Linked DNA regions of Homo sapiens. The protein of the gene in region 1 purifies or fractionates together with the protein of each later gene. This does not show direct contact. Each region holds a gene or a part of one and is shown on either strand. Other genes may lie near its edges.

The links.
Region 2: the proteins of RALYL (region 1) and CCDC12 purify together in Homo sapiens (affinity purification with mass spectrometry; 3 studies listed by BioGRID and IntAct, with this or other methods). This does not show direct contact.
Region 3: the proteins of RALYL (region 1) and CCDC9 purify together in Homo sapiens (affinity purification with mass spectrometry; 3 studies listed by BioGRID and IntAct, with this or other methods). This does not show direct contact.
Region 4: the proteins of RALYL (region 1) and CWF19L1 purify together in Homo sapiens (affinity purification with mass spectrometry; 2 studies listed by BioGRID and IntAct, with this or other methods). This does not show direct contact.

The regions. Positions count from the first base shown.
Region 1 is NC_000008.11:84,181,788-84,186,073, reverse strand, and holds the start of RALYL (RNA-binding Raly-like protein), read right to left. Parts: upstream 2,801-4,286; 5' UTR 1,650-2,800; intron 1,404-1,649; exon of another isoform or gene 1,076-1,403; coding exon of another isoform or gene 1,060-1,075; exon of another isoform or gene 891-1,059; coding exon of another isoform or gene 841-890; intron 1-840.
Region 2 is NC_000003.12:46,938,746-46,942,245, forward strand, and holds part of CCDC12 (coiled-coil domain-containing protein 12), read right to left. Parts: intron 2,321-3,500; coding exon 2,253-2,320; intron 12-2,252; exon of another isoform or gene 1-11.
Region 3 is NC_000019.10:47,263,025-47,266,524, reverse strand, and holds part of CCDC9 (coiled-coil domain-containing protein 9), read right to left. Parts: intron 1,923-3,500; coding exon 1,839-1,922; intron 1,753-1,838; coding exon 1,579-1,752; intron 1-1,578. UniProt on the Homo sapiens protein: Probable component of the exon junction complex (EJC), a multiprotein complex that associates immediately upstream of the exon-exon junction on mRNAs and serves as a positional landmark for the intron exon structure of genes and directs post-transcriptional processes in the cytoplasm such as mRNA export, nonsense-mediated mRNA decay (NMD) or translation.
Region 4 is NC_000010.11:100,254,139-100,257,638, forward strand, and holds part of CWF19L1 (CWF19-like protein 1), read right to left. Parts: intron 2,339-3,500; coding exon 2,124-2,338; intron 1-2,123.

The DNA of each region.
Region 1 (4,286 bases):
TTCCCCGCCAGGAAATACAATGAAATGTCCAAAGACTTTTGAGATACTTGCATGAGTTGTGAATAAAAAATATATACAACTTTCCAGATATTACACTAACTTTTAATCTTCTACAGTTAAATGGCCCATTGCACGCCTTACTTTTTGACCACAAAGAGTAAAAACTAAGGCGTAAAACCTTTCATTCCACAAACTGAGGTTACAGACAGTGAAATATTTGCTTGAAAAAGCCAGTGTATGTTATAAACCCCTTTGTCATGGGCCCCTCTGTATGTTGCAGTCAGTTTTTATTTCTGTAGTTACCTAGAAGAAAACTTCATCTGAGAGGTAAAAAGTTGTTGTTTCATTTGCTTTATGTTTATTTTACAGAATTCAAAGTATATACACATGGTAATTTAAAGCTAAGCTTTTCATTTAAGGGGGGAAAAGGTAAGAAAATCAAAGCTTCAAAATCAAAGTATTTAAATAATGGTGACTCTCCAGATTTTAAGATGTATGCCTTCAGGAAATTTATTTGGACAGAAAAATTTCCAGCAGATTCGGTCACAGTGTTAAATACAGAAAAGGCTTTTTATTGCCAACTGGTACGTCTCTGAAAAGTAATGCTAAATTATACTGAAAACATGTAACAGGATAATCATAAAATATCATAGAATACATTCAACATTGAATACGTCAGTGCTACCAACACACGAAATCATCACCTCTATCACCAACCCCTCACTCCTGCCCTGTACACAGTTCTCAGGGGAAAACCTTTAGAGCCAGTATCAGGTGGTTAAAAAGAGGGAAAACTCTGCCCCTTTAACAAAATTTAAATAAAAGGCATTTTTTTAATACCTTAGAGGTGTAGGGTCATTACTGCAAACTAACAGCGTCGTCCTCAACATTAAACCCAAGTGATCATCTTATAAGAAACTATTTCCCCATCCCCTGGAAGACGACACCAGCAGGCACTTAAAACCAACGCAACACAACAGGGAAAAAAAAGATCCAAAGACAGCATCCCTAAGAAAGCAAAGCCCTTTGGTAAAGCAAAATAGGCTGGGTAGGACCTACTGCGTCGTTTACTCATTGCGAAGAGGAGGAGCAGGAGTTGAGCGTGCGAGGGCCGGTGCCATCCTCAAGGCTCTGGAAATGTCTCCAGCTCCGGCTCGCGTGGCCTGGAGCCAGCCCCTCCGGAATATGCGGTCTCTGCCGCTTCTACCCCCATCTCCCGGGTGCTCTGAGGGTCCCCTCTAGCCCGCCCGACGGCCAGCGCCACGTACACGGCCCTCGCCCCTCCTGCTGTGCAAGTGGCCCTCGGAGAACTTACAGGGCCCGCCGGCCGCCTAGTGCCCGGCCGGCGCGGCCCGCAGCGCAGACGCCACCCGCCCCGCCGGGAGACGACCTGGGCGCAGCTCACCGTGGGAGGGGTGGGGGGAGGGGACTGTATTTTGCGCACATCTAGAAAACGATCCTGAAGCAGGGAACGGACTTTGGTTTTCCCTGGCTCCCTGCGCCGCTCTCCCCACCTCGGGCTCGGACACTGCCCGGAGATGCGCGCGCGCAAACACAGACACACACACACACTCACACTCACACATTTCTTTGCTAGGACCAGTGTTGCCACTGCACACCCGGGAAACGCCTCCAAGGGGACCAAGTACCTGCTCTCTGCGAGCTGCTCAGCTGTTCACTTCATCCTCCGTTGACAAGGAAACCAAACCGCACTTCATTTTTTTTTTTCCAGAAAAACCTTCCACTGCCATCATTTGAAAATTGATTTACGGGGAGGGAAGGGGGAGAAATAAGGGACAATATAGATATAGATATCAGGATATCTATCATAAAATTATCTCGGTTTTTTAAAAAAGTCAAATGTGCAAAAGTCATAGTTAATTTAAAGGAGGAAAAAAGTATTTTGCTTAAAAATGATCCCAATCACCAGCTGTAAGAAAAGTTTCATGTTATCAATGGGTATCAAAAACAGGAGGGAAAAAAAACGAATTTGTTTTCACCGGCTTCCAAAAAGGGCACAAAAAATATAAAATTAATGTCTTTGCTCAGTGGTTTGCACCAGTATTGCAAGACCACAAACTTGTAAACACTGCCGTAAAATCCCACCTATACAAAAATGTTATCAGAAAAAGAGTATGCAAAAAAAGAGTTAGAAACATGCTTTTTATTTTTACAAAGGAAAAAAATAGGCACCATACTTCACATCGCTTTTTCCATAAAACCAGTTGCACATTTTGCTGGACTTGGGAGACGCTCCCAGCGGGCACGGTCGCCGCGGACTCCGAGACACAGCGCCTTGTCTACAGAACGATCGCATGCTAGAAAAACTTGGATTCAGGAAAAGGCTCAAAACCATGCTCCTCCAGCTTTCCCAAATATAAACAATAATCAAAGAAGTGGAAAAAAAGAAAAAAAACAAAAACAAAAAAAACAAAAAACCAAAAAAAAGGACAAAAAAAAGAATAGGACAAGAATGCCACTGAGAAGGTACTCACCGAGCGGGAGTAAAATGTTGGAATAAAAATGAGATTTAGTATAAAATACAGTATGGCGGTGGAAGAAGGAATGAAGCGCGTTTTTTTCTCGCAGTCTCTGCCTCAGGCACTGACACGTGACTCGGAGCCAGGCTGACTTGCAGGCAGCGGGGAAGGACCGAGGCTGCGAGGGGGGAAGCCCACGGAGCCCAACTCTGGCTGGCGAGGCGGCGGCGGCGGCGACGGGGAGCCTGGCGCCTGAGAGCGGCAACACCAGTGGCGGCAGCAGCGGCAGCGGCAGCTCGCGGCGAGGCTGCCTTCGCTGTGAGCCCAGACGAGCAGGTGCCCCTCACGCTGAGGCTGAGCACACGCACACGCACACGCAAGACAGGCAGGGCGCCGGCGAGAGGGGGAGCCGAGCGGGGTTGGGCCCGAGGCGCGCAGCTGCCGCCGCCTCTGCCGCTGCTGCCGCGATTGCTGCTGCTGCCTCTGTTGCTGCCGCCGCCGCCTCGCATTGGGAGTGTGTGCTGTGGGGGCAGCTCAGGGGTGCTGATCCAGCGCCTTGAGAGGAGGTGCACAACTTGCTGCTCACCTCAAAGTTGTTGCTTGCCACTTCCTTGTGTATTTCATCTATTTTTCATCTACAGGTAGTTACCTGGGGAGAGATCCCATCGTCTTCTCTCTGGAAGTTTTACTATTCAAGCCCACATTCACTCATTCATTTTGTTTGTTTGTTTGTTTGTTTCCCTGATTTTCCATTTCCCATCCCTCCCAAGCTGCCTTTGCCTCTGCTGTTCCCTCCTCCCTAGATCTGCGTTTCCCCCTCCCGGTTCTCAGGGAACCTGGCTCAGCGCGATGCTGGGGGCGTTGTCACGGGCAAAGCCACTGTCAATCTTTATTGCCATCTGAACGCACAGCCTCTCTTTCGCCGTCTTCAAGGGGAATGCTTGCAGTTTGAAAGACACAACAAAATCTCTTATTTAGGAAACCCCGTCCCGGGTTTCTTTCTGCGGGTTGCGGAGCGGTGGGTGGGGGCATGGGTGTCCTTTATTCATTCGTGGACAAGGCATTGTTTTGTCTGTGTGTGCGCCCGTGCTTCTGAGCTGGTCTGGAAAGCTCCAAGGGTCTATGCTCCATGGCAGAGACTCCTGTTTGACTCTTGCTCAAGTTGTTCGCTGAGGCTGGAAGTCAAAGGAGAGGGGCATGGGAAACAAGTGAGTCCATTGTGTGAGTGCTCGCCTGGAGGGAGCAAGCACTTGGCGGTCGAGAGGGGGAGACGTGTACCAGCAGTGAGGCGGTGGCGCACCCCGCGGGAGCCAGGTGGCTGAGCAGTGGATTCTGAAGGTGAGGGTGGCAGAGGGATTTCTCCACCCAGCGTGTGGGTTAGGGCGCTCATCGATCGCCTGAACAAAGATGCCATCAGCCAATCGCTGGGTGCATTGGGCTTCTATTACTGCCTGTTGAAGAATCAGCTTTGTGGACGCTAGAACACATCTATTTTTCTTCATTTTTGTACAATACTCACCTCAGGACCATTTCCCTGTGCTGCTTTGAATCTAGGTTGTGTGGAATTAATTGGCGTCTCTATATTTGAGAATGAGCAATTAACACAATTCTGCAGTTCAAAGATTCCTGCTCCCGATCTTTATCTCAATGTTTCCAATGCTGACGTTTCATATAAAATGCCTCCATCAGAGATGATCTAACCTCGACATTCTGAAAATTAAGTACACATCCTTCACACAGAGCTTCAGTAGCAAATATGGTCCTCAAACATTGTGCTCAGAATTCATTGGCCAAATAAAGTTTTAA
Region 2 (3,500 bases), on another chromosome or scaffold:
GCTGAGGTGGGAAGATCGCTTGAGCTTGGGAGCCACGTGGAGGTTGCAGTGAACTGAGATAGCGCCACTGCACTCCAGCCTGGGTGACAGAGCGAGACCCCATCTCAAAAAAAAGAAAAAAAAAATCACACATCATAGAGCCTTTCCCTAATCCTGTTTCCTCCTTGCTTCCCCAGACAGCAATCGGAGGCATCACTCCTCATGTATGTGTTTACACTTCTGCTTTCGCTTTCTTGGCAGCACCTGACACTGTATCACACGCCTGCTTCTTCGTTAACAGCCTGTCTCCTTCCAGAAAATGTCAGCTCCATGAGGGTAGGGGCTGTACTTTGTCTGCTGTTGCCTTCCAGGGGCCCACAATGGTGCCCTGCACAGAGCAGACAACCAATAAAGTCAGTACTTGCCAACTGAGTAACACACATATATCATTTTGTGTTCCTAAATTTGATATAAATGTTCCTGCCCTGTATGCCTCAATTCTGAAACCTGCTTTTTTCCTTCACTCAACACCATGTTTGAGATTCACAACCATATGGTTCAACATTCAAGCCTCTTACTGTATGACCCACCCACCCACCTGCTAAACCAGCGACCCTTCTCTCTCATCGAGGAGGGGGAGGGGTGGGGATCAGAGAAAACACCACCAGCAAATCAAAGCCCAGAAACTGGAACTCAGGCTCCAGCCAGAGTTCCAGTTTTTGAGAAACTAAGAATAAACCAGAAGACCAAAGGGCCTCTAATATGTAGTTACCACAGAATGGGGGAAACTGTGCCAGCACCCACCCATAAAGCCACATATGTTGGGGTCACCTGGCAAAGGAGCAACTAACTGGCCTTCATCTTCCCATCACCAGCCAGGGACCTTCAAGAGCTGGGGGCTGAGGCCCAACAAAAAGCCCCAGGCCCAGTGCCGGCAGACCCACTCACTGTTTAGCATCACCAGCCTCTAAGCATAGAGCTGGTAGCATGTCTGAACCCGAGTAGGGGGCATGGACTCTGCAGGGCTCTCAGGATGGTGTGAAAACACTCTGTAAGTCGTGTCTGTGATTGCTCCTGATTACAAAGGCAGAGATGAGGCCCGCATGTGGGGAGGTTCTACTCATACTGGTGAAGGTGAAAAAAGGCTGTGGCATTAGGAAAGCCTGCTCTGGTGTGGCTGCCCAGCTTCCTCTAAAGAGCATTCCCTCCCCTCCCGCTCCCCCTGGGCAAAGCAGAGCCTAAGCCCATCAAGATCTACACCCCCCTGTGCCTGAAGGAAGCTGCTCAGAGCAAAGGAAATCAAGGCAACCTGTCCAGAAAGACACACAGTCTGGCCCCAGGAAGAGAGCCCCATCTCAGGGCTAGGCATGGGAGGGAGGACATGAGACCTCTGGAACTGCTGACACGGGAGTGGTAGTCAGACACTCTGCTCACAAAGATCAGCAGCACAGCTTTGCCTCGCTCACCCCACACACTGGTTCCGGCAACAGTTTCCAGGCTCCAGATTTTTGGGAGGCAAAGCAGCATCTGAGGCTCTGTGGAGGTTGCAGCCCTCAAGACTGCGGGGGAAGACCTTGTGCCTGCAATCACGAGGGAAGTGTACCCAAGACCCTCACGTGTGCTGTGTTTAGGCAACTTAAGTGGACCCAACCAGATGAGAGTATTCGACAAAATAAGATAAATACTACAGAGGGAAATGAAGCCAGAGGGACACAGACAACGAGAAAGGCGCCCTTTGAGCTGAACTCTATGTGAAGACCCAGACATCAAAGGTATAGGAGAGATGAGAAGGACCTCCAGGCTGAGAGGACGGACAAAAGACTGGTCAGGAAATGCTGAGTGGCCAGAGGTGGCAAGGGCCGACCACAAAGGGCTCTGGCTAGAGGGAAACCAGAGGAGGTTGGATGAGGCTAGATGGTCCAGGCAGAGCTTCACATGCCAAGTGCAGAAGGGGCACTTACTCAGTAGGCAATGGAGAACCACGCCACAAAAGGTGTATGAGAAGGGTAAAAAGGCATAATGTAAGGGCTAGAAAGAAAATGCTGGGGGCTGAGTAACAGCCAAATGGAAAATGAGGGAAAGGAGGCAGAGAAGGCCTCGACAAGGGCCTTCTGAGATGTTGAGATTTTAAGGTCTGAACAGGACAGCCATGGGCAGAAAGAAGAGGGGAGGGAACAGGGCAGACACTGAACAGAGTTGGGAGGACCCAGAGACTGGGAGACCGATGAGTGCTGGAGGAGAGAGCAGACCCTGGAGCTGCACACGGGCATTACCTGTGCTTCTCGCCTTCTTCCTCCTCTTCTCTGAGATGCTTGGTCTTTGGCTCCCCATCTTCCTTGTCCTGCAAAGAAAGGGAGAAAACCACCAGCTCAGTTGAAAGCTCCTACTTCCAGTCCACGTGGCCCAGGGAGCTAAAGAACAGGACATCTCAGAAGGGGGGCACCTGGCAGGGCCCAGCTTGGTGTCCCAGACTCCAACAGGGTACACGCCTGCTGCATCTCATAGGCACAACTGGAGCCTCATTGCCTGTGCAGAATTTAAAAATCCATAACTCTTGGCTGGGCGCGGTGGCTCATGCCTGTAATCCCAGCACTTCAGGAGGCCGAGGTGGGCGGATCTCGAGGTCAGGAGATCGCAACCATCCTGGCTAACACGGCGAAACCCCATCTCTACTAAAAACACACAAAAAAATTAGCTGGGCGTGGTAGTGGGCGCCTGTAGTCCCAGCTATTCGGGAGGCTGAGGCAGGAGAATGGCGTGAACCTGGGAGGCAGAGCTTGCAGTGAGCCGAGATCAAGCCACTGCACTCCAGCCTGGGCGACAGAGCGAGACTCCATCTCAAAAAAAAAAAAAAGCAACAAAAAAAGTCCGTAACTCCAGCCCAGTCCCAGGTACCTGGTAGCCCTTAGAGAACACTCACAGAAAGAGCTGGATGGCTTTAGGTGGTGAGAAATGCAGCCACTTGGTGCCATGGAGGGGCCATGCTGGCAGGCCAGCAGTCACCTTCATGGGTCTAGACAGAACCACCTGCTAAGCTAGGAAAGACTGGGGAAAGAAGTTACCAGCAACCAGGGCAGGATGAGAGCTCAGGCCTCCTGAGACACCTTTCAGGCCAGAGTCCTCTCCAGAAATACCTATTTGATTCGCTTTAGAAGTAACATGAACTAGGACCAGGCTTGCAACAAGATTCACTGCCTAGGCCTATGCTATATTCAGGGAGACAGAGGCAAGGGGAATTAGTCTGAAGTTTCCATGAAAATTTTCTTAATCTGGTTCTTTTGACTTCCCACCAACTGCACCTCTTTTTGAAGTCTACAGAGTCATGTTCATCTCAACCTTGACATGTTATGCTTGTTCTCAGGTGCACTGGGGGCCACAACAGAAGGAAACTGCCATACTGCTTCCACCTGAAGCAGAAAATGTCTTCCTGGACTTTATCCTTTATTATGTGATTACCTCTGTTAGGTCAGCCTGCCTGTGGACAAACTGACGCAGGGCGTGTGTGCACATGCACAAATTCG
Region 3 (3,500 bases), on another chromosome or scaffold:
CACACAGGGAAGCGATGACAAGGCAGAGATCACAATCAACTAGGCTCAGGTGGCACCTCCTCACAGAGGCCCTCTCAGATCTCCTAAGTAGCATCCCTCTGTCCCCTCAGCTGCTGGATTTTTCTCCACAACACTTGGTAGGACCTCACATCTCACTATATTTTCATTTACTCAGCTCCCACCAGAAGAAACCTCATCAAGGCAGGGGCTCTGCCTCCAAACTCTTCTCCCGCCGGGCGCGGTGGCTCACGCCTGTAATCCCAGCACTTTGGGAGGCCAAGGTAGGCGGATCATGAGGTCAGGAGATGGAGACCATCCTGGCTAATATGGTGAAACCCTGTCTCTACTAAAAATACAAAAAATTAGCTGGGCGTGGTAGCGGGTGCCTGTAGTCCCAGCTTTTCGGGAGGCTGAGGCAGGAGACTGGCATGAACCCAGGAGGCAGAGCTTGCAGTGAGCCGAGATCGCGCCACTGCACTCCAGCCTAGGCAACAGGGCAAGACTCTGTCTCAAAAAAAAAAAAAAAAAAAAAAAAAAAAAGCCAGGAGCGGTGGCTCACGCCTGTAATCTCAGCACTTTGGGAGGCTGAGGCGGGCAGATCACGAGGTCAGGAGATAGAGACCATCCTGGCTAACATGGTGAAACCCCATCTCTACTAAAAGTACAAAAAATTAGCTGGGCATGGTGGTGGGCACCTTAGTCCCAGCTACTGGGGAGGCTGAGGCAGGAGAATGGTGTGAACCCGGGAGTCGGAGCTTGCAGTGAGCCAAGATCACGCCACTGCACTCCAGCCTGGGCGATGGAGCAAGACTCCATCTCAAAAAAAAAAAAAAACCTCTTATCCTCAGCACCTAAAACAGTACCTGGCACATAGTAAGTGCCCAGTAAACAATACTGTTAGTAACAAGAAAACCCTCAAACATACCACAAAGCTGTAACAACTAGAGCCACGTGGTACTGACAGAAGAACCAACAGACGGACAATTTAGGGGTGGACCACCAAGTGCAAGGACACTGCCCCTGCCTCCTCTTCTAGGCCAGGTCCCCACCCCTCACACAGCACCTGCCATGTGGTAGGTGCCTCATAAATGCTGGTGTCATTAACAATGAGGGGAGATTTACCTTGGCAGGAAACAAAACATACCATAAATCCTTAATAATTAAAATCCTGGGCAAGCACAGTGGCTCACACCTATAATCCCAGCATTTTGGGAGGCCGAGGCAGGTGGATCACTTGAGGTCAGGAGTTCAAGACTAGCCTGGCCAACATGGTGAAACCCCGTCTCTACAAAATACGAAAAAATTAGCCAGGTGTGGTGGCACTTGCCTGTAATCCCAGCTACTCGGGAGGCTGAGGCAGAATTGCTTGAGCCCAGGAGGCAAAGGCTGCAGTGAGCCGAGATGGTGCCACTGCACTCCAGAATGGGTGACAGAGCGAGAATCCGTCTCAAAAAAAAAAAGTCCTGTGCTGTGGCACAAAAAAGGAGAGGCCCCATGGCCCTGATCTGTCTGGTTCCTGCTATGCAGTCCCCATCAAAGCCCTGAGAGCCCCGAGGTGTCCTCACTGCCAACACCCACCTGCCGCTCGTGCTCAAGGCCACAGCGCACCCGCTCGAAGTCGGGGCCCCCCCAGTTGCGGCCGTGCCGGCGGCTCTCCTCCCGGCGGTCCCGCTCAGACTCCTCCAGGGGCCCGCTGCGTCGCCGGGGGTCGTCCAGGAAGTTCCGCACTGGGTTGGGTTCAAGAACCCCTTCCTGCAGGCAGCAGAGCAGGGGGTTGGCGCGGGCTCCCCGCAGCCCAGGCAGCTCGGCCCTGCCTCGGGGACACCCGCACCACTGACCCGCTGGTTGCGCTCATACTCGGCGATCTTCTCCATCTCCTCATTCATCTTCTCAATGTTCTGCCTGCGCCGCTCCTCCCACTCCTGGGGGGATAAAGATAGGGACACCCAGCTTCAGGGAGAACTATTAAGCTGCCGGTGCAGGAGACGGGCTGCCCAGCAGGCCTGAGGCTCCTCTCCTCGGACTGGCCTGCTGGCATCTGACCATTTGCTCTCAGCGTGCTCCAGGTCAGCAGTGAACTGATGAGGCTGGCTGGCCAGGCTTGGACTATGCGAACAACACGCTGTACGCTGCATTCGCCTTCCTACTGGGGGGTCTGGAATTTCAGTACATACTAGACAGAAGGGGCCTGCGTTCAAAACTAGCCTCCAGGCTGACATGGTGGCTCACACCTCTAATCCAAGCACTTTGGGAGGCCAAGGCAGGAGGATTGCTTCAGCCCAGGAGTTCAAGGCCAGACTAGGCAACATAGCAAGACCCTGTCTCTACAAAAAATTTTAAAAGTGGCCGGGCGCGGTGGCTCACGCCTGTAATCCCAGCACTTTGGGAGGCCGAAGTGGGTGGATCACCTGAGGTCAGGAGTTTGAGACCAGGCTGGCTAACATGGGGAAACCCCATCTCACTAAAAATACGAAAAAAATTAGCCAAGCATGGTGGTGGGCGCCTGTAATCCCAGCTGCTCGGGAGGCTGAGGCAAGAGAATCACTTGAACCCAGGAGGTGGACGTTGCAGTGAGCCGAGATTGTGCCACTGCACTCCAGCCTGGGCAACAGAGTAGGACTCTGTCTCAAAAAATAAAATAAAATAAAAATAAAAATAACGGGTCGGGCACAGTGGCTCACGCCTGTATTCCCAGCACTTTGGAAGGCCGAGGCAGGTGGATCACGAGGTCAGGAGTTCGAGACCAGCCTGGCCAACATGGTGAAACCCCGTCTCTACTAAAAATACAAAAGTTAGCCGGGCATGGTGGTGGGCACCTGTAATCCCAGCTACTTGGGAGGCTGAGACAGGAGAATTGCTTGAAACCAAAAGGCGGAGGTTGCAGTGAGCCGAAATCATACCACTGCACTCCAGCCTGGGCAACAAGAGTGAAACTCCATCTCAAAAACAAAAAGAAATTTTAAAAACTAAATAAATACAATAAATAAAAATAAACCAGCCCCCAATTAAAAACCTGGAGTGCTGAATCTCTCGTGGGCATCCCTGGTAAGCCACATGTTGTCACAATTCAGTGCTGGAGGAATTCAGCGCATCCCCTGGGACTCCACAGGGAAAGGACTCTTGGAAGTTCATGCCGGGTTTCCTCCAGACCTCAGCCCAGGTACCCCGCCCCCTGCTGATTTTGCTTTGTGATCTCTTTCACTGTGATAAATCTAAGCCATGAGTCTTTCTAGCAAACCACTGAACCTGCGAGTTCAGTGTCAGGGTGCTGGGGGCCCTGGCACACCAAGGTTGCCGCAATCATAGTGGTGGTAATAACAGTAATTACTTGGCAGATGGTTAGGTGACCTACCCCCACCAACCACAATCCGTTCTCCCCTTCTTCCTTCCATGGTAGCAAAAATTTATTGATTTTTTTTTTTTTTGAGACAGGGTCTTACTCTGTTGCCCAGGCTGGAATGTAGTGGTGTGTGTTCACAGCTCACTGCATCCTTGACCTC
Region 4 (3,500 bases), on another chromosome or scaffold:
AAAGTGCACGCGTGAGCCACTGCGCCCAGCCTCTAGTTTGTTACGTAGTGCATCTGTAGTTCACGGGTCCAGACAGTCATAGTCAATTCAGAAAATCAAAGCGAAAAGCTAGGCTTCAGGGCTCCTAGGATCCACAGAATATCTGGTATAGAGTATTCAAGGACTTCATCACCAGCATATAATCCTTTATTTTGCTTCAGTCAAGGAAGTGGCAGTTTGAGGAAGGGCATAACCACACCCTTCTTAAGTAATATGAAGTTTGCTCAAAGTTATTCTTGCTCCCAGAACATCCCCAGATTCTGTTAACAACCAATTAAGTGATCTCTCACCCACAGCATTATTTATGAACTCTATTCTAAGAGAAGGTATTACTTGGAAATAAGCTAACAAAGTTTGTTTTCCACTACGTAAAGCAGGAATTTCCTTTTGTCTTATGCTTGTTTCCTTCAGGTTTCTGCTGAAGGGCAGGGAATTAGCTTTGAGGTCAGTCCTAGCATCTTAGGGACTGGTGAACTATACTTTTCTCCTCCATAAATATACTGTATGGTTATTTATAAGCCTTGATCAAAATCAATTTTTAGCTCCCCGCAAAACAAAGGGGCCTCATTTTCTCATCCTTCCTTACAGAGCATCATATGTGTCTTTCTCTCTTCCTTCATCACTTTAGCAGCCCTTCTCTCGATCTTCCCTAGCTTTGCTATATCCTTGTGCTCCAACCAGCTCTATGCCTTGTATTCTACGTAAAGAGTAATCATGGGTTTGTCAAAAAGGAAGAGAGCATCCTCCTTGATAATGCCTGGTATCCTGTTGGCCTTTTTGGTCATGGACACATGGTGCTGAAACTGGCAAGGGGTGGTATACAGGCTCCACTTCTGGATCATCACTGATAATCCTGAATCCAACCATGGAGATTTGTTCCCAAATGCATTCTTACATTTCCCTTCAATGAAGCTCACCCAGTGTTTTCTGCCCTCACACATAACCTTTTCAAAATCTTCCTTAGGCTTACTTCCACCAGTGTAGCGTTTCACTCCCCATGATAGTTGTCACTCCTGGTGTACCATCCTTTTCAAGATTACTCATAAAATATTAAAATCTGGCCAGGTATGGTGGCTCACGCCTGTAATCCCAGCACTTTGGGAGGCCAAGGCGGGTGGATCACTAGAGCGCAGGAGTTCAAGACCAGCCTGGGCAACCCTGTCTCTACTAAAAATACAAAAATTAGGCTGGGCACGGTGGCTCATGCCTGTAATCCCAGCATTTTGGGAGGCTGAGGTGGGCAAATTACTTGAGGTCAGGAGTTTGAGACCAGCCTGGCCAACATGGTGAAATCCCATCTCTACTAAAAATACAAAAAAATCCGCCTGTAATCCCAGCACTTTGGGAGGCCGAGGCAGGCAGATTGTCTGAGCTCAGGAGTTCATGACTAGCCTGGGCAACATGCTGAAACCCCATCTCTAATAAAATACAAAAAATTAGCCAGGCATGGCAGTGTGCGCCTATAGTCCCAGCTACTTGGGAGGCTGAGGCAGGTGAATTGCTTGAACCCAGGAGGCAGAGGTTGTGGTGAGCAGAGATGGCGCCACTGCCCTCCAGCCTGGGTGACACAGCAAAACTCCATCTCAAAAAAAAAAAAAAAAAATTAGCCAGGCGTGGTGGCGCATGCCTATAATCTTAGCTACTCAGGAGGCTGAGGCAGGAGAATCATTTGAACCCGGGAGGAGGAGGTTGCAGTGAGCCAAGATCGCACCACTGCACTCCAACCTGGGCGACAGAGTGAGACTCCATCTCAAAAAAAAACAAAAAACAAAAAACAAAAAAATCAGTGAAGCCTCAAAACATTAAGAGGCTTAGGAAAGGGCACTTGAAGCAGAGAATATAAAAAACCATTCCTTTATAATTAAGATTTCAGCAGTCTCATCTATGAATCACACTTTCATGAAATTAACTTTTGCTTTGATCAGTTGACAGAACTTTTAGAATCCTGAAAATTTTCACAGAAGACTTCTAATAAAAGGTACCCAAGAGCTAAAATACTCAATATAAACAGGAAAAGAAAAAAGTCCCAACTCAAGCCAGTGCAATTTGCTTTTAGAAATTCCAACTAAACAAACACTACTCACAGAAGAATTCCCAAAGTTCCCCACACACTTGGGCCATGGGGATGTGAGCAAGATATCAACACCCTTAAACTGGGAGGTTGTACACAGCATCATTCTCAGAGAAGACACATCCTTGGGACTAAAACTATAACCTGGTACTGGCTCATTTAAGGATTCTGTCCCACTGAGGTACACAATCTGCAGCCCCGAGCTTCCAGTGAAGATACCTTTACGACCTGGGTTCAAAGAAAAATGAACAAATTTTAGTCAGAATTGCAGAATGAAAAGCCATCAATAGGGGGATGAATCTCCCATGACTCTCCTATGTCCCTGCCATTTTACATGTCTGAAGTGTAAACTCTCCAGCAGCTCCCTTCTGGCTGCTAGGCATCAATGGTGAATGGCTACAACAGTATTCCTGCTCAGTAAATATGAACAGCCCTACGTGGAGGCTGCTGGAGCCCACGGGCCAGTATGTTTATGCCAGGTGCCTTACAAATATTACTGGAAAAAGTTGGGAAGAGAAGATTAGGGAAAAGGCTTTCTGCGTTCTAGAGAAGATTCTACATGGACTTAAATGCAGACATCTGGACACAGGAAAAGGCAATGCGAAGAAAAATACAGTTCTAAGGAAGCTACAGTCTAGAAAAGATGCACATAGTGAAACCCCATCCCTACTAAAATACAAAAAATTAGCCAGGCATGGCAGCGTGTGCCTGTAGTCCCAGCTACTTGGAGGCAGGCAGCAACTTCCAAGTGAAGGAAAACATTTGGAAAGAACAAGTGTTTAGGAAAAATTTAAGACGCCACTCTCTTCTATGGTTATTCCTGGCTTGTGGCCTTGTTTCCATTCCCTCCTGTTGCCTTCAAGACCTTGCTCCATCAATTTTCACTTCCCTTTCATCTACTGAGTCTACTCAGCTGGCGCTTTTTGTTCAGAAAAAAATATGCTCAATCATCGCCATCCAAAATGAACACACATACTAAGAAACTTCCTCCTCTTCAGTTTTGAATTTCTGAAGAGTCATCCATGCTAAGTGCTTTACCTTTTTTTTTTTTTTTTTTTTTTTTTGAGATGGAGTCTCGCTCTGTTGCCAGGCTGGAGTGCAGTGGCGCAATCTTGGCTCATTGCAACCTCCACCTCCGCCTCCCGGGTTCAAGTGATTCTCCTGCCTCAGCCTCCCAAGTAGCTGGGACTACAGGTGACCGCCACCATGCCCAGTTAATTTTTCTATTTTTAGTAGAGATGGGGTTTCATCATGTTGGCCAGGATGGTCTCAACCTCTTGACCTCGTGAACTGCCCACCTCGACCTCCCAAGGTGCTAGGATTACAGGTGTGAGCCACCACGCCCAGCCTACTTTATTAGTTCCTTAACCCCCTGCAATCAGTTTCCCTC